Homo sapiens: one gene and its partners. The protein of the gene in region 2 interacts with the protein of the main gene of each other region in a biochemical or structural test. Each region holds a gene or a part of one and is shown on either strand. Other genes may lie near its edges.

Region 1 (3,500 bases), on a different chromosome or scaffold from region 2:
GATGGGAAATCAAATAGCCTGGATGATTCAACTGAAGAAGTTCAGTCTATGGATGTGAGGTATATTCATTTCTTTTGCATTTAAGCCTCATCACTTCTCGAAACACTACCCTTTCTTTTAGTTGGTTTCTTCGTCTTTTATACAACCAAATCACCTAAAGCAGGTTTGATTGACATTACAGGAAAGCTCTCAGTGGTATAACATTCTAGTGTCTTGCGTCAGGTTCCCTAGAAGCAGAGCCTGGAACAGAGTTTCTAGGGCATGTGATTTGTTAGAGGAAAGCTCTTGGGAGTTTTTCAGGAGAAAGGGGAAGGAGGGAATTCGCTAAGCAAGGATGCCTTCTCAGCTGACCCCATGGGAGCTCTGGAGGATGAATTTCCACCAGAGACAGTTCCTCTGAGCTTCTGCAGTTCTGGTTTTTCTAGATTCTTCTCTAAGATCTCACAAGGAAGAAAAAGAAGAACCTGGCAGCAGCTTTACTCTGGCTGTTAAGAGATTCCTGGTGACAGGCCCTCAGCCCACCACTCTTCAGAGCCTGGATTTGTTCCTTTGCTAGGCCTTACAGCTGGCGCAATTATGAAACTCCTCCTTCCATCTCTAGGGAGAGGAAGAGAGAGAGAGAAAGAAAACCAGCCTTGGCTGGGCTGGAGCTGGATAAGTCAGAGTGGATTGGAAGCCTCACTTTAGAGAGGAAGCAGAGCGTGAGATTGGCTTTGCCAGTGATGACGTGGGCTGTGGTGGGATCCTTTCATTATGGGCCCCCCAACCTTAACTGAGCACTTCAGGCGTTTCCACATGAACTCTTCTCAGCACGATCAGATTCACACTCACAGGAGCCCTGGCAGAGAGAAACAATTGTTCCCATTTTACTGGCGAAGAAACTGAGGCTGCAGGAAGGAAAAGCAATTCGCCCAAGGTGGCACTACTAGAAAGGCAGCACTGGGAGCCCCACTGTTAATTAGGGTTCTTCTTCAACTTGCTTTGAACTTTTGGCATTGGCTTTCTGTCTGAATGTCCCATTTAGAAAGTTCTGGAATGCCTTGCTTCTTTGTGGTAGAATGCTGGTGCCTGTGGGTTTTTGTCCTTTCACCCTTTGGGCAATGTGACCTTGGCCATCACAGCCCTGCTCAATCTGCTTCCCTGTTCTCATACATGGGGCCTCGTGTCCACCATCTGTCCTCCTCAGATTTGAGCCCACTTGTATTTTTTACAGTGTGTTACACAAAAACTCTGACTCTAAATCCTTCTTCTTTAGAAGAGTAGTAAAACAAAATATTGCAAATAGAATTAATATATTGTGCCATGTTGTCTGTCTGTCTCTTTCTGCCTCTCTCCCTCTCGTTCATCTCTTCTAGTCCTGTTTCAAAAGAAGAGCTTATCTCTATCCCGGAATTTTCACCAGTGAGTGAAATGATTCCTGGGGTGTCTCTGGACCAAAATGGAACTGGTAATGCCCGAGCACTTCAAGATCTCTTAGATTTCACTGGTCCCCCGACATTCCCCAAGAGATCCAGTGAAAATCTCAGCCTGGACGACTGTAACAAAAACCTTATCGAAGGATTTAACAGTCCTGGCCAAGAAACTCCTCTCAACACCTTCTGTTGACAAATACAGCATCCCTTTAATAAAAGGTACAGTCTTTTGATTATATTCTAACTTCATAACCCTTTAACTGGGGTTTGTGAAGATAGGATGTATATCACTCAGCCTCTTGGATGGTCAAATTTTATTTGAAAAACGCAAACATGAATATATTATGGTATACTACAACACACACAAGAATTGAGACAGATTTCAATTAATTCATCTGCGAGCCTTCAGCGCCGAGCCGCCTTGTCCTAACCCTGCTATTTAGGGTGTGTAGATGGGAAAGTTGAGAACACTGGCTAAAGGTTTGACTACCAGTCCAGCCTGAGTAGCTTTTTTAGGGGGCAAGGAAAGAATACTCTAGTAGTGTTGCAAGGTGATATGAATAAGATGAATTTCCCCACCTCTAGTTTTGCTCAGTGACATCCCACATTCTATCTAGAATCATTCATATACAGGGCCACAGGATTTGCTATTCTCTTGACCCATTCTGGATTCTTCCAAAGCAGACAGCTATTCTTGGATCATACCTGAGGGAGAGAGAACTGCAGTTTTTGTGTCTTGAAGGTTTTTTCCCCACCTTTGGCCTTTTTTTATTTTTGCCAAAGTGCTTCCAGAAGCTATTCTCATTTGAGCAAGAATGTCTATGAGTTATATACACTCTGTAGTAAGGTATACTTAGTTACATATACCTCACATTTTATTTACTTCAGTTTGGGGCTTGTTTTTGAATAAGGAAAACATAATTAGAGTCTGTCACCAAATCCTTTAATAATTTAATAATTCCAATTGCTCCTCCCACTTCAGATTCTGTTTTTGTTTTCAAGAGAAGTGATCTCACTCTGTTGTCCAGGCTGGTGTGCAGTGGCGCAATCACAGCTCACTGAGACTTCAAACTCCTGGGCTCAGGAGATCCCCTTGCCTCAGCCTCCTGAGTAGTTGGATCATAGGCACATGCCACCAGGCCCAGCTAATTTTTTTTAGTTTTTGTAGAGGTTGGGTCTTGCTATGTTGCCCGGCTGGTCTTGAACCCCTGGCCTCAAGTGATCCTCTCTCCTTGGCCTCCCAAGTACTTACTGGGATTACAGCCATGAGCTACCATGCCTTGCATCCATTTATCCATTTTAGATTCTTTTTTTTTTTTTTTTTTTTTTTTTGAGATGGAATCTCACTCTGTCACCCAGGCTGGAGTGCAGTGGCATGATCTCCACTCACAGCCACTTCTACCTCCCAGGTTCAAGCCATTCTCCTGCCTCAGCCTCCCGAGTAGCTGGGACTACAGGTGCACGCCGCCATGCCTGGCTAATTTTTTGTATTTTAGTAGAGACAGGGTTTCACTGTGTTGCCCAAGCTGGTCTCGAACTCCTGAGCTCAGGTAATCTGCCTGCCTTGGCTTCCCAAAGTGCTAGGATTACAGGCGTGAGCCACCGCGCCCGGCCATTTTAGATTCTTAAAAGCATTTTTATATTCTCGGCATTTTCTCAGTCACTTTATTTTTTATACTTCACTCCCATAACAAATTCACTGGCCAAAATAACAGTCCAGTGTTTTTATTTTTCAAATGAGGAAACAGGTGGGAGAGGCTACAGAGCTGAGGTCACTGTGTTTTTTGTATACTTGTTTCTACCTGACCTCAGCTCTTGCCTATAAGACAAGTTTGAGAGCCCATTTCTCTTGGTTCTTGGTGTGTGGTGGGTCACTTTTAGAGTAAACTGTATCACTGGTTTGGAAAAGCAGCTGCCTTCTTGGACACTTAAAACACTAAATCACCTGAGCATTCTATTTCCCTGACAGTTACGTGGCTTAATATTTATTAAGAGGTTTTTTGTGTTTTTAACATACTTTGACTTTAAAATTAGTTTCCCTTCAGTTCACTTACCTCACTATACAGTAAGGAACAGAGAATCCACAAA
Region 2 (4,098 bases):
CCAGGGCCTGAGAGCAGGGAGAGAGAAAGGGTAGGAAGAAGCCAGAGGAGTTTCAGCGACTGCAGTCCTTCCTCTGCACTATAGCGTACCCCTACCACGATCCCAAGGCCTCAGTAAAGGTTTGCTGCACACCTCAGCTTCTTATCAGTGATGCTTTGGAGAATGAAGGACTCTGAGGCAGTGTTCAGGGCAGACTGAAGGAGGACGGACACTTTCAGGAGCCCAGGAGTGGAGATGGAGAATTCAACTCAAGTAGGAAATTCAGCAAAGGTGACCAGGGGAAAGATAAGTCCACTAGGAGTCTGCTAAGCATCCTTGGAGTTAGTAGAAAACGCCAGGATTCCCAATATATTTGGGATGGGGTTTCAAATATATTTTGACTATTGTTTGAGTATTAAAGAAAAGGGCAGGGCCGGGCTTGGTGGCTCACGCCTGTAATCTCAGCACTTTGGGAGGCCGAGGCGGGTGGATCACGAGGTTCAGGAGTTCGAGGCCAGCCTGGCCAACATGGTGAAACCTCGTCTCTACTAAAAATACAAAAATTAGCCGGGTGAGGTGGTGGGCACCTGTACTACCCGGGAGGCTGAGGCAGGAGAATCGCTTGAACCCGGGAGGCAGAGGTTGCAGTGAGCCGAGATCGCGCCACTGCACTCTAGGGTAGGAAGGCCCAGGGTAGGAAGCTGAGCGGTTTCTAAATCTGTAGCCCCTTTTTCTCAATGACAATGAAGTAATCTTCCGAGATGTTGAAAAACCTGGTGAGGAAAGTTTGGAATAGCAGTTTGGGAATCCCCTGTAATAATCTGCTTTCCCTTGTGAACAGCAGGCACTGTCTTAAAATTTTTTTGTATCCTCAATGCACTGTAGGAGTTCAATAAATGATAGAATAGATGAATAAATAGAAGAGAATGAGGAGACGGATCTGGGCAGGCTGCGAAGGCGGTGCTATTCCAAAGCCCAGCCCAGAGGCAGTGACCTCCGACCCAAGCCAAAAAAAAAACCTCGCGTTCAGAGGCCGGGAGAAAGAACAGCTCCCAAATTGAGGGGAGTCCAAGACCCTGCTCTTTTAGAGGGTGGGGCTAGGAGAGCGTATTTCGACGCTGCCCGCCAACGAACCAATCCCCGCCTAAAGGGGGAGGGGATTTAATCTGTCGCCTCTCCTTCCCTTTGGAAAGTAAATACGTTCGGGCGCCATTCAAACGGACCAATGAGTGATCGACGTTTTTGTGGTTGGCCTTCACCGATTGGCTGGAGTTTGTCGTCCCTCCCTCCTCGTCACGCCTCTGGCTCCACCCCTTTGCACACAAGATGGCGGCGCCCAGCGGAGTAGGGGCTGCGCTTGGGGTTTGCTGAAGCTGGCTGCCTCTCCCACTCCCCTTTTGGGTGCAAAGCGCCGCTAGCGGGAAGACGGGGGCCGGGCGGGGACAGGGGCACCTGCGTAGCTGGACTGAGAGCCTGCGCCCAGCTTACATCGACCCCACCCGGCCCCGGCCCGACCCGACGCGACCCGATCCGATCCGATCCCATTCCATCCGTTCCTCGTCTCCTCCCGGTCTGACCCGTTGCCCGGCCGTGGTTCGCCACACCAGGCATCCAAAGCTGAGGTCGCTCCTACGGCCTGGGCTCGCCTTCGCTTTAGAGATGTTTGGCCTCTTCCCTCCCAAACAGCCCATCTTCAAAACCTGGACTCTTGGACTGGCACCTGGCCACCTTTCCCTCTACCAAGACTCCACTTCCGTCTTACCCACTTCTTCCTCAGATTCTTGGTACCCCCTGGGTTGGAGACTGCTCATTTTCCTTCCAAATTAATCCCAGACCCCCTAAAATATTGACAACCTTGACAACCCCCCAACCGAGGAGCCAGACTTTGTTTTGGACTAACTTCCATAGCCCTATCATGGAGGCAGTGTACCTGGTAGTGAATGGGTTGGGCCTGGTGCTGGACGTGCTGACCTTGGTGTTGGACCTCAACTTCCTGCTGGTGTCCTCCCTCCTGGCTTCCCTGGCCTGGCTCCTGGCCTTCGTCTACAACCTGCCGCACACGGTACTGACTAGTCTTCTGCACTTGGGCCGCGGAGTCTTGCTTTCATTGCTGGCCTTGATCGAAGCCGTGGTCCGGTTCACATGTGGGGGCTTGCAGGCCTTGTGTACTCTGCTGTATAGCTGCTGCTCTGGCCTAGAGAGCCTAAAGCTCCTGGGGCACCTGGCCTCTCATGGGGCACTGCGGAGCAGGGAGATACTGCACCGGGGCGTCCTCAATGTGGTCTCCAGTGGCCATGCTTTGCTGCGCCAGGCCTGTGACATCTGTGCCATTGCCATGAGCCTGGTGGCTTATGTGATCAACAGCCTGGTCAACATCTGCCTCATCGGCACTCAGAACCTCTTTTCCCTGGTGCTGGCCCTGTGGGATGCAGTGACCGGGCCTCTGTGGAGGATGACGGACGTAGTGGCTGCCTTCCTAGCCCACATTTCCAGCAGTGCTGTGGCCATGGCCATCCTCCTTTGGACACCCTGCCAACTAGCCCTGGAGCTGCTGGCCTCAGCTGCCCGCCTCCTGGCCAGCTTTGTGCTTGTCAATCTCACTGGCTTGGTGTTGCTAGCTTGTGTGCTGGCAGTGACGGTGACTGTGTTGCATCCGGACTTCACCCTGAGGCTGGCTACCCAGGCACTCAGCCAGCTCCATGCCCGGCCATCCTACCACCGTCTTCGAGAGGATGTCATGCGGCTCTCTCGCCTAGCACTGGGCTCAGAGGCCTGGCGCCGAGTCTGGAGCCGCAGTCTGCAGCTGGCGAGTTGGCCAAACCGGGGAGGGGCACCTGGAGCTCCCCAGGGTGACCCTATGAGGGTATTCTCAGTTAGGACCCGGAGACAGGACACTCTTCCTGAAGCGGGGCGCAGATCAGAGGCAGAAGAGGAGGAGGCCAGGACCATCAGAGTGACACCTGTCAGGGGCCGAGAGAGGCTCAATGAGGAGGAGCCTCCAGGTGGGCAAGACCCTTGGAAATTGCTGAAGGAGCAAGAGGAGCGGAAGAAGTGTGTCATCTGCCAGGACCAGAGCAAGACAGTGTTGCTCCTGCCCTGCCGGCATCTGTGCCTGTGCCAGGCCTGCACTGAAATCCTGATGCGCCACCCCGTCTACCACCGCAATTGCCCGCTCTGCCGCCGGGGCATCCTGCAGACCCTCAATGTCTACCTCTGAAGCCTCCTTCCCTGCCTGCCCACCCCTCCATGCTCCACGCAGGCACTCACGCTAGGACAGCATTAACACCTCATCTCCGGGTCCTGGTCTGAATCCCCTCCTACCCCTGTGGCCATCCTGCCATACATCCAGGACATTGAGTTGGAAGACTATGATCTGGGTGGGGGCAGGATAACATGGCTTCTCTTTACCCAGTGGGTCCCTTCGATGCTGAGGGTGGTGAGTATGTCACTATGCAAGGGCCCTGAGACTATTTGCTGTGGGCTCTCCTCCAGCCTGCCCAGGGCCCACCCAGATGCCTCTGGGGTTACCCCTGTCTGCTTCTGGTTTTTCTGTTGGAGATCTATAGGTCCTTTTCCTGCCTCCTTCACATTTCCTCCCCAGCTTTTGCGGCCACAACACATCAGTGTCATTTGGGTGTTTTGGCAACTCAGGGGCCTTCGGATGATCTTAAACCTTTGTGTTCAGCCAGAGCCCCTGTGCCCTGGTAGGCGTTGGGGTTAGTATCTCTCGGGTGCCCTCAGAGCCACCTCTGCCTGTGATCGTCTGATGAGGCTCCCTCCCAACCTGATCCAAAAGCCAGTCTCAGGAGTTTACCCCTGGGATGGGGGATGCATCTGCACCTGACTTTGGGGCCACGTGCCCTGTGGCACCCCAGCTCACTGGGAGTCTCAGGAGGGATAACCGGATTTCTGCTCTTTCCCCTGTCACTCCCACATCACACAGAAAAATGGCATTCCTCTCTGTCTCTCCCTGGCATGGAGAGGGCAGACTGTGCACATTTCACTAGGGTCCAAATACAGAAGGGCCCAGGGCCCAGGGGCTTGCAGCTTCGTGAGGGGTCTCTGGCCCAGTTTCCAATGAATAAAGTTCTCTTGACAGCTCTGACAGTCTCTGTGTGC
Region 3 (3,500 bases), on a different chromosome or scaffold from region 2:
CCTGGGGTACCTTTCCCACACTCATCTTCAATGAACAATGAGTATCATCAAAGACACTCTAACCAGGATAGCACTTCCAGCCACCAGCCCCAGGCTTTGCCTCTGAATTATGTGTAATGCTTGGACTGGGAGACTCTTGGGTGAAAATACTCATATTAGTTAGCTCCTGTTATGCTTTCTAGCAGGGCTTAAATAGGTTTAATAGGTTAAACCCAAGCCCATTTACCATGGAGAAACTGGAATCACATGGCAAGACAAAGGGGCCTCGGGCTGGGAGTCAGGTCCCCTTATATCTGCTCCTGTTCTCCAACTGATGCACTGGGGGGTCCTGGGGATGCCCCCACACTTACTGCAGAGGTTTATTCACCTGTCAGGTGGGCACAGAGCCACTGGTGTGTACTTCCGTAGTCAAAAGATGAGACAAGGCCCAAGGCTGTGACAGCCATAACAAAATCACCCTTTAGGTCCCCAAAGGGTAACGCAAATGCAAGCATCTGTCCCACTCACCCTAACTGATGCCAGGTCCTTGTCCTCCTGATGAATCCAGCAGTAGGTTGTGAGTCAGCTGGTGCGGCAGAGGGGACCAGGACCTTAAATCTGCAGGGGACTCAAGCCACTGTCCTGTCCTCTCAAGCCTCATCTTTAAGGGGAAAAGGTTGGCCTGATCATGGTCCTTTCTGGTCCTTATGCTGAGTCCTTCATGAAAGCCCAGTGTGCTCCCATCAGGTGATGAGATGGGAACTGTGCTTGCCATTATTCCTCCTATTTAAAACTAGGTCTAAATAAGACATTTTGGACTTTGTCCTGAGGGAAGGCTTTGGAAATGAAAAAGAATTTGCAGGTTTGTTACCTCAAACTCAAAAATGATTTGGCTGCAGAAAGAACTGGAATGAATGTGTGCACGCTTCCCTAAGCAGCAGCATTCCGGCACTTACACCCGCCTGCTTCCCCTGAATGCTCTAGATAACATTGACATTTGCAAAGGGAAAAGCTTTTTTTCTTTTTTCTTTTTTTTTAAGATGGGAAAGAGGAAATCCTTTTTCTTACTAGAGATTTTTTTTCCCTTTAATCCTTTTCAAATTCAAAGGATCATCAAAGGAGCAGGTGCAGAAGCTCTGGGGCCCAGAGGCCCCCAAGTGCTACCCCTCCCTGGGGCTGGGGGTGGCGGGGCAGTGGGGAAAGGCAGAGCAGCCTGAGGCTTACAAAGGGCAGAGCCTAATTCTGCACGTCAACTTCCTGCTGCTTCTGCTGCTCAGTTCCCAGGAGGACAAGAAGCATTTTTCCTGTCAGCCGGGAACAAATTAGCATCTCTGATGAGTATTTTCCAACTCTAATCTCTCTCCCTCTCCCTCTCTTTCCTTTGTTTATGAAAGAAATCCCTCTGTTATGGCAACAATCTTTTCAAGGGAAAAAAAAAAAAAAAGAAATCCGGCTCCCACCTCTCGTATCGAAGGAAGACGTTGTTGAGGTCATCGTTCACATGCAGCAGCTCCTCGGTGACCTCCTCATTGGACACGCGGGAGATGAGCTCCACGATGCGCTGCTGCATGGCCCGACAGGTCCTGTTGAGCTCCTAGGGAACACATGCACCTCTGGGTAGCCTGCTGGGTGTGCTTTTCGTCACATTCTATCTCCTTTGAAAAAATTTGTACTGATTCTTAAAAGTCACAAAAGGAGTACATGCTTGTTCATAAAACCAGACATGTGCCGAATTCAAAGTAGAAGTTCCCTCTTCACTGCCTGCCCCTCCTTCCGCAGAGGAAACAAGTACTTTTTCAGCAGACAAATGTCCAGACATACTGTTGTATGTATACAAGTACATGCTTGTACAAATCATTAAAAAATATTAAAATGTGATTCTTTCCAGATTGCTTTTTCTCAACAAAATATTCCAGACACCGTTCTCCATCACTTGGTACAGACTGCCTCATTCCTTTCTGTGTGTTTCATAATGTATCTCGCCATTCTTCTATTGCTGGACATTTAGATTGTGGTCTCTCTTTTTGTGGCCAACCTAAATAATGCAGCAATGAACACCTGTACACACACATGCATATGCACTTGGGCAAGCACTTCCATAGGACAGGTTCCTTAGCAGGGAAATTTCTAGGTGAAAGGGTATGGTCATTTATAACATTAATTAGTAATAGTAAAAGGCCCTCCAAAAATATGACATCAGTTTACTTACACTTCCAGCAACAGCAGGAGTGTATTTTATGACTGCATTAGGTATATTTTGGTGGCACGTCTGCCACTTTGCCGAGACCTCAGAAGCCCAGGCAGCTCCCTGGCTGGCCGAAAGAGGAAATTCGCACACCCCCGGTTGCCCCTGGAGCCCTCTCTACCCTTAGAAGCAACATCCCCGTGACGACAGAGCCTTAGCACTTTATGGCCTGGCTTCCATGAGCCTTCCCTGTTCCAGAACAGCAGACTTACTGATGCCCTTGTTCAAACTTGCTTACAGAGCTCCGTCAATTCCTGCCAGGCCCCTTGCCATCTCGATGCCAGACTGAGGATGCTACAGAGGAGGGAGCTGGCAACACTGCCAGGCTGGCCCCCAAGCATGTGACCAAAGCTACAAGTCCCAGTGTGCCATACAGGGTTAAAGCAGAGGGAAATGCTGTTCCCACCTACCTGGGCACTGGAGGGTGCCAGTGAGTTAAGGGGATAAGACATGAAGGATAAGTCTCTCCTTCTCACAGCTCAGCCTCAAAACGACTTCATTTTGAAACCGTTTCTGGTAGAAGTAACTGATTTATTCACAGGAGACACGGCAATCTCTCTTTAGTTCCTCATATTGTCTCATAATCTTGCTAGCTTGGCTACAGGGTCTTCCTTCCTACCACATCATAAACTCTTGAGGGGGTGTTACCATTTATCCACTCAAGGATGCCCTCAAGCCCCGCACTGAGCCACACACAGTGAAAAAGCCCAGTAATCATCTGCTGAACACATCACCAAGGTGGTCAATCAGCCAGTGGGGAATCAAAGGCATCCCCCCTGCATGTCCCTGGTATCCTGCAACACAGCACTCACACAGGGGCTGGGCTTCTTATCTGCCCTCCCGTCTAGACTGAAGCTCCTTGAGGGCAGAGAAGGTATTTCCCTGGTACCCATGACACATGGGAGGCTCTCCCCAAGTACTTCTGAGAGAATTAATTAATGACTCTAAAGTATTCAGAGGCCGGGGCCAGGTGTGGTGGCTCACGCCTGTAATCCCAAAACTATTGGAGGCCGAGGCGGATGGATCACGAGGTCAGGAGATCGAGACCATCCTGGCTAATACGGTGAAACCCCGTCTCTACTAAAAACACAAAAAATTAGCCGGGCGTTGGTGGCGGGCACCTGTAGTCCCAGCTACTTGGGAGACTGAGGCAGGAGAATGGCGTGAACCCAGGAGGCGGAGCTTGCAGTGAGCCGAGATCACGCCACTGCACTCCAGACTGGGAGAGAGAGCGAGACTCCATCTCAAAAAAAAGTATTCAGAGGCCAAGTGCGGT
Region 4 (4,178 bases), on a different chromosome or scaffold from region 2:
GGGGCAAAAGGGCCAAGTACACAGGGGTCTCTGCACCTTCTTCTGGGCTCTTGGTGGCCTTGGGTCCCGCCATGTCAGTTCTCACCCACCCTGGGCAGCAGGCATTCAGGAGGATCTTGTCCCCTTTCCTCTGCTCACTCAGTTTCCTGGCGTGGATCCTGGACAGAACGGTGACGCCAATCTTCGTCACCCCGTATGCGCTGCTGGGCCAGCCCTCCTTCTGGTGCACTCCCTTCTTTGTATCCTCCACAAACTTGTTCATGAGCCCCACCAGCTCCTCCTCAGTGATGGTCTCACTGCGGAACTTCTGCTGCAGCTCTGGGCTGCAGCTTTTAAGGGCTCTGACGCTCATGATGCTAGATACGTTCACCACTCTCCCTAAGATACACCACAAAGCATTATGTAGAAAGGTGTGCAACAATCCCGTAGAGAGGTGAATGCCAAATTTGCAGGGATTTTGGAGCAGAAAATTTTCATATGAGAGACAGTTACTGGTATGAGTTCTAAGAGGAATACGCATAGAAAGTGTGGTGGTAGTTGCATGAAGAAGTTCATTCCTGCCTTCGAATTTTGGCTGAGTAGAGTCAGGTGAGATTTGGAAGAGCTGCCCTTTGAGGTCCTGGTGAACCAGAGCCTTAGAAGTAGCACAACTTAACAGGACGACAGGACAGGGAAACAGGATAAAAGCTGAGAGTAAGCTGTACATGCAAGTACCCAACTCGAAGCCACACATTTAAATTTTTCTAAAAGTGGCTGCTTAATTGCTGTGTTATTTAATGGGTGGGTTCATCTCCTGTCCCATTACTTAGGGTAACTATCACAGCAGTTTACAACCAAAGACATGTGATAGTCATGTCCAGCACCTTCAGCACGTTGAAGGGGAGTTAAAATGGGCCCAGAGTTAAGCAGCGGCAGATTATGGACATCTCTGTGAACCATGCTAAGGGCTTGGACTTTCCTCCTGAAGGATTTTGGGAGAGGCATGACCATGCAGACAGTACGCAGGATGCTGGGAAAGGAAAAGAGGAAAAGACTCAAGACCAGAGGTGCCTTGTGAGGGTTTGCAATTGTCCAGAGGGACAGGTGAGGGCCTGCTGTAGAGCTGCAATGAGACGGATTCAGGAGGAACTCAGTGGGCACAACTCCTAGGACCTAGTAAATGATTATGAGGGGTGGGGCATGGTGACCTGCAGGATCCTGGTGGGTGGGTGGTGGGGTCTGTGTCCCAAACGACTTAGGGAAAAGGATAGGGATCCTCTGGAAATATCTTAGATTGTGGGGAAAGGCATCAGGAAGAGATGGAAAGGCAGCAAGACAACCATGTGGTTGGGAGCTTAAGGAGTGTTTCAGACAGGTGACAGGTATTAGAAGGGCCTAATGAACTGGTGGTAGTAAAGCCTCCACCAGCCTGAATAAGATCTCTCTGAAAGAGCAGAGAAAGGGTACAGGATGGACTCCCACGCAGAGGGGAATGGAGCAAATAAAGAGCATCTCTCAGGAGACGTTTGAGCTAAGACCTGAAGGATGAGAGTCAGCCAGGTGTGCAAAGACCAGTGCGACAGGGAGGACGAATGGCCATGGGAGTGGGAGAAGTGAGGACAAAGTCCTGAGGCAAAATGGCACATATCAGCTGGCAGGAGAAAAAGCACAGAGGTCAGTGCACGTGCAGCATGGAGAGGAAGCAGGAGCCTGCAGGAGAAATCCCAGGCAAGCAGGGGCCAAATCAAGCCCCAAAGAGAAGGTGCGCTGTTTCCCATCAGACTCACCTTGGGGTTTTATTAGAGGGAGTAATTCTGTGCACACATCTCGGGTACCAAAGAAATTTGTTTTCATCGTCACTTCAGCTTGAATATGAAAGGGTGTGGGATCAGCAACTTTTAGGAGAGAAAGAGAACATAGTTAATACATTGTACCCATGGGGTAAAATTCTATACAATGATACTAAAAAAAAAAAAAAAAAAAAAAAAAAACTTAGTGCCCTCTGCCTAAAGTAAGTCTGTATCTGGTTACAGTATTGTGCCAATGTCAATCTCCTGGTTTGATCATGTTCTAGTATTTTTGTAAGATGGCACCATTGGGGGAAGGAGGATGAAGGGTGCACACACTGGATCTTGGCATAACCATTTTTTCTTTTTGCAATTTGTCGTTTATTTTAAAATCAGTTCAAAATCCATCCAGTTGCCTTAAAGCTCAATTCAGAAAAACTGCAGAAAACCTGAAAAAGATCCCCAAGAGTCCCAGCCAGGGAAACACAAAGTTCCCTTTGGCTGGAAAACTCTCACTTTCTCCAAGGTTTCTGCACTCCCTGCATCTCCTAGCTCCTCCCTCTCCTCCCTAGGGAGGCGTTATGGACCCCGCAGACGCCAGGAGCCCCAGTGCATCGGTTCTTCTTCGGGGAGGCCACGTCCCCTCCCCATACCCTTGAAGGCGATGCCCGCGTTGTTGACCAGCACGTCCAGGCCCCCGTACTCCTTGCGCAGGAAGTCGCGCAGGGCGCGGATGCTCTGCAGATCGTCGATGTCCAGCTGGTGGAAGCGCGGGCTCAGGCCCTCCGCCTGCAGCTGCTGTACGGCCGCCTGGCCCCGCGTCACGTCCCGCGCCGTGAGCACCACGTCCCCCGAGAACAGCCGGCACAGGTCGCGCACGATGGCCAAGCCGATGCCCTTGTTGCCTCCAGTCACCAGCGCTACATGGATGCCGGACGACATGGCTGAACGGGGCGCGCGGAACACCTGCGTGGAGAACAGACCTGGCTCAGGCCCGGGAGCCCCGCAGCGTGTTCCAGAGACTGCTCGAGTCTGGCGGTCGTGGGCGCGCACCCGTGGGTTACACGCCCGGCCGCTGAGCGCGCAGGCGCAGGCCCCGCCCTAGCGGGGCGGGGCTGAACCATCCCTACCCCTCCCCACCGGAACCTCGCCGGGGTGCGGAGCAGGCGGAGAGCCAGCTAGCCTGACTTTGCAGAACCCGCAGGCCGAAGACCGAGGCTGGTCTCTAGCTACTGGCTGTTGGCTGCCCACGTGGCAGTGAAGAACCATTCCTAGTGGCCATGTGCCTAGATCTGAACTCACTGCTTGCCCTTGGTTCTCTGAGGGGTTTTCTTCATATTCTCCCAGCTGTTCAATCATTCCTAGTTGTGTTTGAAGAAATAGTACATTTGCATGGTTTTTTTTTCTTTTTTTCCTGGTGTTCTAAAAAAAAAAATACTGCAGGAACTGCAGTCTTTGGAGCTAGAGTTGCAGAAGAAACTGGAAGGAAATAACAGGGCATCAAGTTTTTGTTGATTTTCCCCCTAAGTATATGAAAACAAAGCTACTGACTTAGCCAGATTTTCCAATAATGGTGGGAAACATTCACTAAATCTTTATAAGGTTACTTCTCTGGGCATTTGCAGGGCCATCAGTTTATCTGTGCATAGGTGTAGGGGGTTTCACAGCCCTATTTTACACGGACAATAACACTCTAGGATGTACCTTTTAATCCCCATCTTAAAATGAAGAAACAGGGATCCATCCTCAGAATTTATAACTTAGTTCAGTGGTGGGAAATTGTTAGAGAAATGCCAGGAGTTTGGTCTAGGTCTGGTGGTTCACAGCACAGAAAGCCAGTCACTGAGACCCCATTATTGTCAGGGAAGAAGGCATTATTTGGGTGCTACAGCCTAGGGGGGAGAGATCAGTCTCAAATCCATCTTCTCAACTGATTAAAATTAGGATATAGCAGGGAAGAAATGTAACTGCATGTGGGAAAATAGCAGGAGTTAGGGAGAGATGAAGAGGAGTGGGTCAACAGGCATCAGGCAATTGTTGCAGGTGAGGGGTCTGGTGTCTGATTTTCCAGATGTGGTGATCCGATAAGTTTCAGTTCCTTGGTGCTATCTGGGAGGACTGATGGCTAGTTCCCTGAGAAAGGAACTCAGATAAGACAAATGTAAATTTCTCAAGTTTTTAGACTGGGAGGGTCAATTTGTTTATTCAAAAGAGACCAGGCCTGGCGCGGTGGCTCACGCCTGTAATCTCAGCACTTTGGGAGGCTGAGGTGGGTGGATCATGAGGTCAGGAGTTCAAGACCAGCCTGGCCAAGATGGTGAAACCCCATCTCTACTAAAAAAAAAAAAAAAAAAAAAAAATACAAAAATTAGCTGGGTGTGGTGGCAGGCGCCTGTAATCCCAGCTACTTGG
Region 5 (4,256 bases), on a different chromosome or scaffold from region 2:
CAGAGTGCATGTCCTGTGAGAGGACCCCAGCTTCCTGTCAGGGGATGTCCCCAGTGAAGTCTGCAGTCCTCTGGTATTCCAGGATGGACACAAGGATTCCTCAGCAGCTGCCCACTCCCTGCTCACCTTGGTCTGGTACCAGGACTCAGCCTCAGCCCGGCTCCTCTGAGCAATCTCCTCGTATTGGGCCTTGACCTCAGCGATGATGCTGTCCAGGTCCAGGTTGCGGTTGTTGTCCATGGATAGCACCACGGATGTGTCTGAGATGTGGGTCTGCATCTGGGACAGCTCCTGCAGAACAGAAGGTCATAAGATCAACTTCACATCTGACATTTACAGAGATACCCAACCCTATACATCTTCTCCCCTTTGCAGACCCCATCAGAGTAAACAGAAGGATGGTGGAGATGCTTACTGCATCATACAAGGCTCTCAGGAAGTTGATCTCATCTGTGAGAGTGTCTGCCTTGGCTTGCAGTTCAACCTTGTTCATGTAGGCAGCATCCACATCCTGGGGAAAGAGCCAACAACCTGGAGTTACCTGAGCTCACCTTTCCAATCTACCCATCTTCTAGTCCTCCTGCCAATTCTCTCCCAGGGGAGCGAGGACACAGAGCCACTTCTCTCCTTCTAAATGAATTTGAACCCCCGGCTTCATCTGCTCACCTTCTTCAGAGTCACAAATTCATTCTCTGCTGCTGTGCGCTTGTTGATTTCATCCTCATATCTACAGGAAGAAAGGCATAGGACACATATGAGCCAGTGGGTAGGATGAAACAGAAAAGCAGCTTGGGATTCAACAATTTCCTGAATGGAATATATTCTAATTGAGCTTTCCTGCCACAGAGAGCCAAAGAGATGAGTTTTGCTACTACTAAATTTGCCACTTCTTTAATCCCCCCATCCTCCCATAACCATCTGTGGTTCTTGCAGGTTTGCTCCTAGGGACTAATTTGTGCTTTTCATTTCCATGGACATGGGTTGTTAGGAATCCTACACACATCTGGCCCTGGTCACCCAATAGTCTTGAAGTGTGTGCTGCAGGAAATGGAGTCCTCACTTGTTCTTGAGGTCCTCCACCAGGTCCTGCATGTTTCTCAGCTCCGAGTCCAGGCGGCCCCGTTCCCCGACGATGCTGTCCAGCTGCCTCCTGAGGTTGTTGATGTACTGCTCGAACAACGGCTCCAGGTTCTGCCTCACAGTCTTGGTGCCCTGCTCCTGCAGCAGGGTCCACTTGGTGTCCAGAACCTTGTTCTGCTGCTCTAGGAACCGCACCTGGAAGGGAAGCAAGATGGTCATTTTCCAGGCAAAGGAAGGAAGAAAAAGTGTCTGGTATCCAGTTTCCTGGCAGGTCTTGGAGGTCCCCATGGTGCTGGGCTACTACAGTGCATGTGGAGAGGCTCAGGCTGAGCTCTGCTCCCCCAACCCCTTCTCCTTTGCACCCCACCAGTCTCACTAGAGAAATTGTCCCATGGACCATTGAGGTGTTCTCACGCTGTAAGCTATTGATCATCAGTGAGTTTCAACATTTCTTCTCTTCTTTTTCCAGGCACAATCACAAATCTAGTTTAAAAATACTAATTACCTGATATATTGTACACAGTTTTTTTACTGATAGGATCTTAGTTAGGAGAGATATTATATGTTGACTCATGATTACATTTCAGTCTACTTTCCCATTTAGTGTCTCCTCTCAAATATTCTGATGTTATGGTCATTCTCTGTTTTTAAAATTAATTAGCATTTATCCATGTTTTACAGTTGTTTCTATGTCCCTTTTTTTCTTAATCCAGCCAGATTATCTTTTCCTTTTCTTTCTAAATCTTTTTCCTCTTACCCAGACCCCAGAGTGTAATTTACCAGCCCATATACTCCTGGCATTTGCTTTGTAATCTCTTAAACACTTCAGAGGGGAGAATTAACCTACTCCACTCTCTGATGGCCTCATCTGTGCTTCAGGGTTATGAAAAGTTACGGCTCTCCCTAGGCAGGAGTGAGGGCCACTCCAGAGATCCCATGGGGGAGTGATGCCCATCTGTGCTGCCTCCTGTGCACCGAGAGCCACCTGCACTCTCTGCAGAGCTGGGCTGAATCCCCTTCTCCCTCCCTCCTAGGTCTCCCTAGCAGGAAGGTGTTGCTCTTCTGGTCTGGGGACCCTGAAGTGCCCGATGGAGGGCATGGCACTGGCTCACCTTGTCGATGAAGGAGGCAAACTTGTTGTTGAGGGTCTTGATCTGCTCACGCTCCTCGGCCCGCACCCGCTGGATGGCGGGGTCAATTTGCAGGTTGAGGGGAGTCAGGAGACTCTGGTTGACGGTGACCTCTTGGATGCCTCCAGGGGGGCACACAGGGAAGCCAGGGCCCCCAAAGCCACCAGCAAGGCCGGCTCCACCACCCAGACCAAAGCCAATGCCGGCTCCACCACCGAAACCAAATCCACTCCCGGCGCCACCAAAGCCATAGCTGCCTCCGGCTCTGCTGCCATAGCCGCCACTGATGGCACAGCTGCCCCCTCCAATGGAGATCCTCTTGGAGCCCCCCAGGCCATACAGACTGCGGCTGCCAAAGCCAGCTCCTCCACATGCACCACCCAGGCCACCACTGCCCCTGGAGCGGGACACGGAGATGCTGCTGAAGCCAGAGCGGCTGACCCCAGGGAGCCTGGCTGAGTTGGCACTGAAACCCCGGCGGCTGCTGCTGTGGCTCCTGATGGTGGTGGATGTGCTGGCCATGGTTCCAGGAGATGAGAGGGCTGTGGCGAGCGTTGGAGGCTGGAGGCGAGAGGCAGGAGAAGCAGGACAAGGAATCGGGCTCCAGCAGTAGCTTATATATTATGAGAGAGCATGGGCTGGGCCCAGTCCTGGAAGGTGAGCTTGCAGGTTGGGAAGGGCTGGGCTTTACAAATAGTGAGATCACACCTGGATCAGAAAAGTTATGAAATGCTGAGATGGCATTTTTCACTTCCTTTAGTCAGGGAAAATGTTCCTGCCTCCAGCTTTGACTCGAGATTTCAGCACAGTAAGAGCATTCTCAGTTCATGAAGTTGAAGTTAGTCACTGTCTTCAGCAAAGGTTCTGCATGCTAGGCTGTTTATCAACATGCTGTGAGTGCTTTCCTCTTTCCAGCCTGACTTTCTTCCAGCAGAGATGTTGGAGATCACAAGCACTGTATTGCAAATGCCTTAACAGAAATATTAACATTTTTCCTGTAATTATTTTTCCTTCTGTGTGCAATTTCAAACATGTAGAGGAGCAGAACACAATGGGCCTGTATATACCTATTACCTGTTTCCATGATGATTACCTTATGGCCAGTCTTATTTCTTGTATATTTCCACCCGGTTCCCTTATCAATGTTAAATTTTTTTAAATCCCAAAAATATTTGGGATTTAATTCAATATTAATTCAATATTAATCTTTAAATGATAGACCTTTTAGAAATATAACTGAAATATTATTTTGTATTTTAAAAATGTATGTATTTATTAAGTCTTCGCCCTCAAGGAGTTGACTCTAATAAAGATGACAACACAAAAGGAGATAGAAGACATCACATCCAGTGGCATCACTGAGCTAGAAAGAAAGTAATGCTTTACTAGGAAGAAAAGAGCATAGAGAGGGGGTGTAGAGGGGACAGTGGGGAAGGGTAATTTTTTTTCTTTTTTTTTTGAGATAGAGTCTCTCTCTGTCACCCAGGCTGGAGTCCAGTGGTGCGATCTAGGTTCACTGCAACCTCCGCCTCCCAGGTTCAAGAGATTCTCTCACCTCAGCCTCCTGAGTAGTTTGAGATTACAGGTGGCCACCATCAAGCACGGCTAATTTTTTGTATTTTTAGTAGAGATGGTGTTTCGCCATGTTGGCCAGGCTGGTCTCGAACTCCTGACCTCAGGTGATCCACCTGGCTCAGCCTCCAAAAGTGCTGGGATTACAGGCATGAGCCACTGCTCCCAGCCAATTTGTGTATTTATTAACATCAATGTGTCTATTCAATTCTCCAATGTCCTTTTTCATTTATTTCCTTATTGTTTACAATTCTTTTGTTGATAAGACCAGGTTAATTGTCCTGAGTAGTGTTTCAGTCTTTGGGATTTCCTCATTGCTTACTCACAGTGTTTCATTTAAGATGCTACTGTGTCCTCTATATTTCCTGCAAACTGATCATTAAAACTTGAAGCTTAATAAGACTCTCATATACTTAGACTTTCCAGATGTGGATGTAGTAGAATGCCTATTTAAATACTGAAAATTGGCCGGGC
Region 6 (3,500 bases), on a different chromosome or scaffold from region 2:
GTATGTATCTTTCAGTCTGCCACAAACCATGTTACATCAAAGGAAAGAGAAACGGATACATGATAGAGATGAAAGATAATGTAAGCACAAAGAAAGTAGAGACGGGAAGAGAAGTTCATTGTGGAAAATATGAAAGCATGTGAAAATGCTATATTCTTCTATAATCAAAGTACTGTATATGAAAACTAAGACTGTTCATGACCAGAAGCACTTGCATTTCACTCCGTCTTAAAGGGAACAGAATGAGTTTTCAATCTTAGCAGTAACTTTTTACATATGTTCCAAAATTCAGTGATTTTTCATGGTGATGGAATCTTCACAGATCAGATTCACATATGCAATACAGATAATTTATATATTCATATATCCTAAATATATTTGCAGAGCTTAACTCAAAAGCAGAGTCCCCTTTTCATTTCTAATTTTATTTCTAATTAGAAAACAAACAAAACACACTCTACCTTCCACTCGGGGTCTTGCTTTCTTTTGTCCAAAGATGATTTCTCCCGCTCCTTGGCTTTTTTGTAAGCTTTCTTTTCTTCAGCCATTAGAAGTCGAGCGATTTCCTAAACAAAATACAGTCAATATCATTAACTGCAGAGGTGCAGATAGAAATATACTAGGATATTTCCAAAGAATATCAGCTAAACTCATTAACTTACTTCATCTTGAGCTACTTGAGCGGCTCTCATGTCCACCTGGGTAGCCTATGATATCGAAAATACAAAAACAAAGAATTTAATTGGAATCTATGTTGTGCATTTTCAGTATCTTGTACAAAATAAGCTGGTTTTTGAAAATAATTGTGACTCATGTTCCTGAGGTTGATAATCAGTTGGTATGCTTTCACCAGCCAGAGCAGGAGCTCTTTTTATCAAATCCTACAGCAGGGTTATGGAGAACAATCATGGAGATGGAGAAATGGAGTTATGGACTTTGCTGCTAATGCTTACTCACTAAGCAAAAGTGGATACTCTATTCCTATTGTCATGATTTTTCCACTCATAAAAAAAGGTTTCTCAATTGATAGAGGACTATTAATATAATTTCAAGATGGACTAGATTCACAAAAAAAATACCCATCAATATATCTAAACTTTTGCCTTAAAATTTGCTCACCAAAAGTTCTTCTTCTTGCAGTTTTCTGGCAATTTCAGCATCATACCATTCCTGATCCCTGTGGGCCATTCGTGATGGAGTAGATACAGCTTCTTTCATCACTCTTGGCTTCATTCCTTTAAAAAAAAAAAAAAACTCAATGTAATAAAACAACCGAGGATGTTTTCTGAAAAGTTAAGAAATTTAAGATAAAGGAGATTTTTCTTTAGTAGCTAACAATGACAATACTACCTCTACTCCAGAATACAGTGTGGGGTGCATTAAAAATATTTTTGCCCTAGGAATGGAAGTGGCAATGTAGATAATGCATACATTTAAACAAAGATATCTAAGCAAGCCTGCCTGGTAAAAAGTCCCCTCTCACATAGTTTCTGCAACAGCAGAAATTTATGTAAGAAGTTGCAAGTGAGGCCCTGGAAAAATACAAAGTGAAAAAAAAGTCATTGAAAACAAAAATAATTTAAAGAAAAGCAAATTACAGAGTCAGAGTTTAAAAGAGGCTAAGCTGTCAAGGCTGGAGGAGAGTAGAGGCTTCTTTCTATTTATCTCAGCCTGCATACTTACTACTTCCGAGGGAGCAGGAACAGCAGCACCTGGCAGTCATGTGATAATACCTGTGAGACAAGCAGTGGTCCTGCCATGGCTTTTCCTCTGAGAGTAAATAAACCCACTCGCTTTAGAACTTCCCCACAGCTTTGATCAGACTGATAGCACTGTGACATCTTAGGGAAAATATAATCAGAGCTATATTGAGAGCACAATGACCAGAGTTCTATTCCAATTTATTCCTATAAAGCAATTCTGGCTTTAAACTTTTACTTGACAGTGTGAGTGTATTATATTCAGAATTAATAAAAATTTTGAATACAGTGAACAAGATTACTTATCTGAAATAGTTCATTTCAGTAAATTAACTATTCAGAGGAGAAAGAAAATGTACTCCTGATTGTCTCTTTATGCCAGGGGTTGTCAATCAGGGCTATATATTCGAATCACATGAGGGTGCTTTGAACACGTATAAAAATATTTGCCCCAACCCCCACAGATTCTAAATTAAGTAGCCTGGGTGTGCCCTGTCCTTGAGTAAGTTTGTTTTAAATCTCCCCAGTTCATTCTTACTTGCAATTAATATTGGCATCACCTGTTTAGTGTATTATGTCCATTAAAATTACTGTAAATTAAAATGATTTTTGTCAAAATCCCTCACCACACTTGACTCACTTGCTGTTAATCTTTAAAAAAATAAAATACAAGTAAACACTGGGCAAATGATGAGAATGTAAGTATTTTGTGAAGCCCACCTTTGTACAACTTTCAACCTGGCTTCTGCGGCTTCAGAAGCCACAGACTCATACACATCTGTATTTCCTACAAAGACAGACTAGTAAACATGGCTTTCTTAGCTTCAGACCTAATAGAACCTGATTGCACAGATCACTTCAAATCAACTCTAGAGCCACGGAGTCTTATGCTGGGCTGGGCTTAATCTAGATTTCTAAGTGGTTTGGGACAGCAAAAACAAACAAACAAACAAACAAAAAAACAGTGGCATAGTCCCAAGAGTGGACCATCTGAAATAGAATATAAATCTCCCTGAGTTATTTAGCTTAGTCAGAACTAGGAAGGCAGATTTCAGAGAAAATGAAATTAGATAAGGAACTCAGTACTGGGCAATGTCAGTGGACAAGATAGTCTGCTATATAAACCATGTTCCAATCTATAGAAAAAATGATACTTCAATAAGCAGCCCAAAGCTTAATTAAGGATGACAGAACATGCCTACCTCCTTCACTTTTGCCATACAGTGAAATAATACAGTGGGATGTGCTCAAATTTCAAGAGACCAAATTTTCTCCACTATTATGCCTCCTAAAGTACACCACAGAATTAGCCAAGAAGATTTTTCACTTTCAGTTTTATTAAAGACACATTGTTTTAAATTCTACCAAAGACAATATTCCATTGAATAGTCTAATTGTTTTGACAGGGTGATAAGACTGTAACCTCTGGCAGTTAAAAAGAGAATGATGACTTAGTAAGAGTCAGAATCTGAGGTAATATCTCTCAGTTCCAAATATTTAGAGGGGAAATGGTTTATTTAAACCCTTGATGTATCACTGGAATCTGTAAATCTCATTAAGTAGAAAATCTCCACAGCCTGGAATACTAAATTTCTGCACTGTCAGGATGCCCATTCTCTGCAGTGTCCTCTGGACCCAAGGTGACAAAAATTTTTGTAAGGATATAGAAAAAGAACTCACAGTGCAGTGTAAGGCCGTCATTAAACAAAGATGTCCAAAAATTTTTTAAATGTAATTAACTGAAGGAAATTAACAGACTAGCTTCCCTCATCTCAGTATCCTAAACAGACTCTAGAAACT
Region 7 (3,500 bases), about 120 Mb from region 2:
CACGACGGCACAGTGCAGAGCACGTGTCACCTGACAGGGGCGTGAGGTTCTCCTGCACAGAGCTGGGCACAACGGGGTTTCAAAGCCACATTTCCACATCTCTGAAAATTTCAACTCACCTCATTTCTGCCAACAATTAGAAAAAAAAAAAAAAAACAATTCTATTTTCTAGATATGCAAACAAAATTCAAACGTAAGCCTTGGCTTCCTGGCCTGAAAGGATCTGTGTGCGGTCAGCACGTCTACAGGATTCTAGAATGGATGACGTCCCCACCCCGGCGCTCTAAGCCCCGTTCCCTCCTCCCGCACCTGCCCTAGGCCCTGGGGTTTCTACCAGGGGAGAGGCACCCAGGGAGGGAGCACACGCACCTGTGATGGGCACATAGCCAACGCCCTGCTGGTACACTGTTGGCATCAGGACCACGGGCTGGGGTGGCATCACCATGGCAGCTGGAAGCAGCTGAAACACAGCGGAGATGGTCCCGGGGTCAAGGAGGAACATCCACCCATCAGAACCTCGGGAATCGCCCTCCCCACAATTGCCCTCCCCACGCCAGCCCAGAATCGCCCTCCCCATGCCAGCCCAGAATCACCCTCGCTACACGAGCCCTGAGTGCACAGGGGACGCTGGGCCCTGCTCCCACCCCTGCACCACCTCCTCAAATCCAGGAGGTGACATGGCTCGGGCTTACAGACCCCCTTCTAACTGGGATGTGACTGAGAGAGGATGGTGACAGGAGGGACATCCCAGTGTAGGTGTCGAGTCGGCCTGGGGGGAACCACACTGCACTGCTGTGGTGTCTGAGTTTGAAAGTGTCAACTTCACATAAGTCACTGCACTGCTGTCAACTCTGAGTTCAAAACTGTCCACTGTGGATAAGTCACTGCACCACTGTCACCTCTGAGTTCAAAACTGTCAACTGCGGATAAGTCACTGCACCGCTGTCGTCTCTGAGTTTAGTTCAAAACTGTCCACTGCGGATAAGTCACTGCACTGCTGTCTCCTGAGTTCAAAACTGTCAACTGTGGATAAGTCACTGCACCGCTGTCATCTCTAAGTTTAGTTCAAAACTGTCCACTGTGGATAAGTCACTGCACTGCTGTCTCCTGAGTTCAAAACTGTCCACTGCGGATAAGTCATTGCACTGCTGTTGTCTCTGAGTTCAAAACTGTCAACCGTGGATAAGTCACTGCACTGCTGTCGTCTCTGAGTTTAGTTCAAAACTGTCCACTGCAGATAAGTCACTGCACTGCTGTCTCCTGAGTTCAAAACTGTCCACTGCGGATAAGTCACTGCACTGCTGTTGTCTCTGAGTTCAAAACTGTCAACTGTGGATAAGTCACTGCACCGCGGTTGTCTCTGAGTTCGAAACTGTCAGCTGCGGATAAGTCACTGCACCACTGTCGCCTCTGAGTTCAAAACTGTCAGCTGCGGATAAGTCACTGCACCGCTGCCGTCTCTGAGTTCAAAACTGTCAGCTGTGGATAAGTCACTGCACCGCTGTCTTCTGAGTTCGAAACTGTCAACTGCGGATAAGTCACTGCACCACTGTCGTCTCTGAGTTCGAAACTGTCAACTGCAGGTAAAATCACTGGAGCGTCATGATGGTTCTGTGTTTGTATGAAAGCGTCTGTTAAAGACGTGTCATGAGACATTTACACATCGTCACTCACGGCCGGGACATGATTTAAAATATCCCAGCTTTAACAAAAAGGGGGTGGGAGGAGCCAAGATGGCCCAGAAAAGCAGCTCCCTGCTGCTGCCTCCCCGCCGCAGCCTCCCCGCCGCACCCTCCCCGCCGCAGCCTCCCCGCCGCACCCTCCCCGCCGCAGCCTCCCCGCCGCACCCTCCCCGCCGCACCCTCCCCGCCGCAGCCTCCCCGCCGCAGCCTCCCCGCCGCAGCCTCACCGCCGCAGCCTCCCCGCCGCAGCCTCCCCGCCGCACCCTCCCCGCCGCAGCCTCCCCGCCGCACCCTCCCCGCCGCAGCCTCCCCGCCGCAGCCTCCCCGCCGCACCCTCCCCGCCGCAGCCTCCCCGCCGCACCCTCCCCGCCGCAGCCTCCCCGCCGCAGCCTCCCCGCTGCACCCTCTCTGCCGCAGCCTCCCCGCCGCAGCCTCCCCGCCGCACCCTCCCCGCCGCAGCCTCCCCGCCGCACCCTCCCTGCCGCAGCCTCCCCGCCGCAGCCTCCCCGCCGCACCCTCCCCGCCGCAGCCTCCCTGCCGCACCCTCTCTGCTGCAGCCTCCCTGCTGCACCCTCCCTGCTGCACCCTCTCTGCTGCACCCTCTCTGCTGTCACATCTGCCTGGCATTTCCCACAGCACCATTTTTCAGTAACAGCCTGAAAATCCTCTGGTTGATGATACAGACGAGACGGCAGGAGCTCTGCGTCTTGGAGCCTCTAACTGGCCCTCCTGATGCCCCCAGGAGCTGCAGGTGCCCTGAGAATGGAGATGGCTGGGAGCCAGGGCGCTGACGTGCTGGCCCCACAGCCAGGCCTCGACTTCCTGACCCTGAGCACAGCAGCCCCCAGGCTTCCCCGACATCTCCAGAGATGCCCTGCCACACCACGGCCAATGCCTGCCCTGTGGGGAGGAGCCTGGTGTCCTGCAGGGCCCAGGGCTGTATCTCAGACCCTGGAGGGCTGCTCAGCTGGACCCTAAGGGCAGAGCTTGGAAGGGCTGTGGGGGTCCTCCGAGGACACAGGGGCCTGCAGTGGAGACCACCACAAAGGGTTGGCTCATCTTAGGAACACAAACAACCCCTATGCTGTTTCCCCAGACAGAGAACATGGGCAGGAGCAGTGGGCAGGGCAGCCCCTCTCTGCCACCAAACCACCCAGGGCCCCTGCCCTCTGTCCTCAGAACGTGAGCCCTGCTGTTTTATGGGCTCAGTGCCTCCAGGAAAGAGACAAGGGTGTCTGTGGGGCGGCATAGCCCCGACGTGCTCCAACATACCCCAATGCGCCCCACCCCGCCCAGGCGTGCAGCTCACCGCGTAGGACATGACGAGGTTGATCATGCCCTCCTTGTCGTCCCCCTGCCTCCCGCTCAGGCTGTACCACTTGTCCTCCACCTTGCCCTGCCTCAGGGACTCCGGGATGGTGATGTGGGTCCAGGCAATGCGGTCGTCCATGGAGAAGGCTCTCTGCGGGAGACAAGAGGGAGAGGCCCCAGGCATCAGGGAAGGGGCCACCCTGCCCCTGCAGCCGCACCATCGTGGGCCCGCCTCGAGTCCCCGTCTTATCTGTGGAACAGGGCTCCCACCTGCACCAACACCCCATCGATGAGACCCCTCGGGCAGCGCAGGCTTCACGATCGTATATCAGCCTCCGTAGGGGACTTCTTCCCTCTCTCCACCAGGATGGGCCAGGGCCAGGGCCAGGGCCAGGTCTGGGGCTGGGGAAAGCGAGGGCCCTGGGCTGCTGTCCTCCTTCAGTTCCACTTCAGGGACACTGGCTGCTCCTCCCCAGCCCTCGGGGCCCCATCCTTGCTCCACCGGCT

Evidence for each region.
Region 1: the proteins of RNF26 (region 2) and MAP7D2 form a complex in vitro, tested with the Homo sapiens proteins (one large-scale study listed by BioGRID).
Region 3: the proteins of RNF26 (region 2) and TOM1L2 form a complex in vitro, tested with the Homo sapiens proteins (one large-scale study listed by BioGRID).
Region 4: the proteins of RNF26 (region 2) and CBR1 form a complex in vitro, tested with the Homo sapiens proteins (one large-scale study listed by BioGRID).
Region 5: the proteins of RNF26 (region 2) and KRT6C form a complex in vitro, tested with the Homo sapiens proteins (one large-scale study listed by BioGRID).
Region 6: the proteins of RNF26 (region 2) and CCDC50 form a complex in vitro, tested with the Homo sapiens proteins (one large-scale study listed by BioGRID).
Region 7: the proteins of RNF26 (region 2) and TOLLIP form a complex in vitro, tested with the Homo sapiens proteins (one large-scale study listed by BioGRID).

Annotation. Positions count from the first base shown.
Region 1 is NC_000023.11:20,008,908-20,012,407, reverse strand, and holds part of MAP7D2 (MAP7 domain-containing protein 2), read left to right. Parts: coding exon 1-59; intron 60-1,355; coding exon 1,356-1,605; 3' UTR 1,606-1,631; intron 1,632-3,500. UniProt on the Homo sapiens protein: Microtubule-stabilizing protein that plays a role in the control of cell motility and neurite outgrowth via direct binding to the microtubule. Acts as a critical cofactor for kinesin transport.
Region 2 is NC_000011.10:119,333,229-119,337,326, forward strand, and holds RNF26 (E3 ubiquitin-protein ligase RNF26), read left to right. Parts: upstream 1-1,298; 5' UTR 1,299-1,894; coding exon 1,895-3,196; 3' UTR 3,197-4,081; downstream 4,082-4,098. UniProt on the Homo sapiens protein: E3 ubiquitin-protein ligase that plays a key role in endosome organization by retaining vesicles in the perinuclear cloud.
Region 3 is NC_000017.11:17,867,901-17,871,400, forward strand, and holds part of TOM1L2 (TOM1-like protein 2), read right to left. Parts: intron 1,574-3,500; coding exon 1,440-1,573; intron 1-1,439. UniProt on the Homo sapiens protein: Acts as a MYO6/Myosin VI adapter protein that targets myosin VI to endocytic structures. May also play a role in recruiting clathrin to endosomes. May regulate growth factor-induced mitogenic signaling.
Region 4 is NC_000021.9:36,068,646-36,072,823, reverse strand, and holds the start of CBR1 (carbonyl reductase [NADPH] 1), read right to left. Parts: upstream 2,801-4,178; 5' UTR 2,709-2,800; coding exon 2,420-2,708; exon of another isoform or gene 2,339-2,419; intron 1,875-2,338; coding exon 1,767-1,874; intron 1,010-1,766; coding exon of another isoform or gene 885-1,009; exon of another isoform or gene 379-884; coding exon 1-378. UniProt on the Homo sapiens protein: NADPH-dependent reductase with broad substrate specificity. Catalyzes the reduction of a wide variety of carbonyl compounds including quinones, prostaglandins, menadione, plus various xenobiotics.
Region 5 is NC_000012.12:52,471,006-52,475,261, forward strand, and holds the start of KRT6C (keratin, type II cytoskeletal 6C), read right to left. Parts: upstream 2,801-4,256; 5' UTR 2,733-2,800; coding exon 2,193-2,732; intron 1,276-2,192; coding exon 1,061-1,275; intron 728-1,060; coding exon 667-727; intron 512-666; coding exon 416-511; intron 292-415; coding exon 127-291; intron 1-126.
Region 6 is NC_000003.12:191,377,894-191,381,393, reverse strand, and holds part of CCDC50 (coiled-coil domain-containing protein 50 long isoform), read right to left. Parts: intron 1,734-3,500; coding exon of another isoform or gene 1,720-1,733; exon of another isoform or gene 1,684-1,719; intron 1,236-1,683; coding exon 1,120-1,235; intron 708-1,119; coding exon 663-707; intron 567-662; coding exon 462-566; intron 1-461.
Region 7 is NC_000011.10:1,285,633-1,289,132, forward strand, and holds part of TOLLIP (toll-interacting protein), read right to left. Parts: exon of another isoform or gene 3,264-3,500; intron 3,145-3,263; coding exon 2,992-3,144; intron 461-2,991; coding exon 370-460; intron 1-369. UniProt on the Homo sapiens protein: Component of the signaling pathway of IL-1 and Toll-like receptors. Inhibits cell activation by microbial products. Recruits IRAK1 to the IL-1 receptor complex. Inhibits IRAK1 phosphorylation and kinase activity.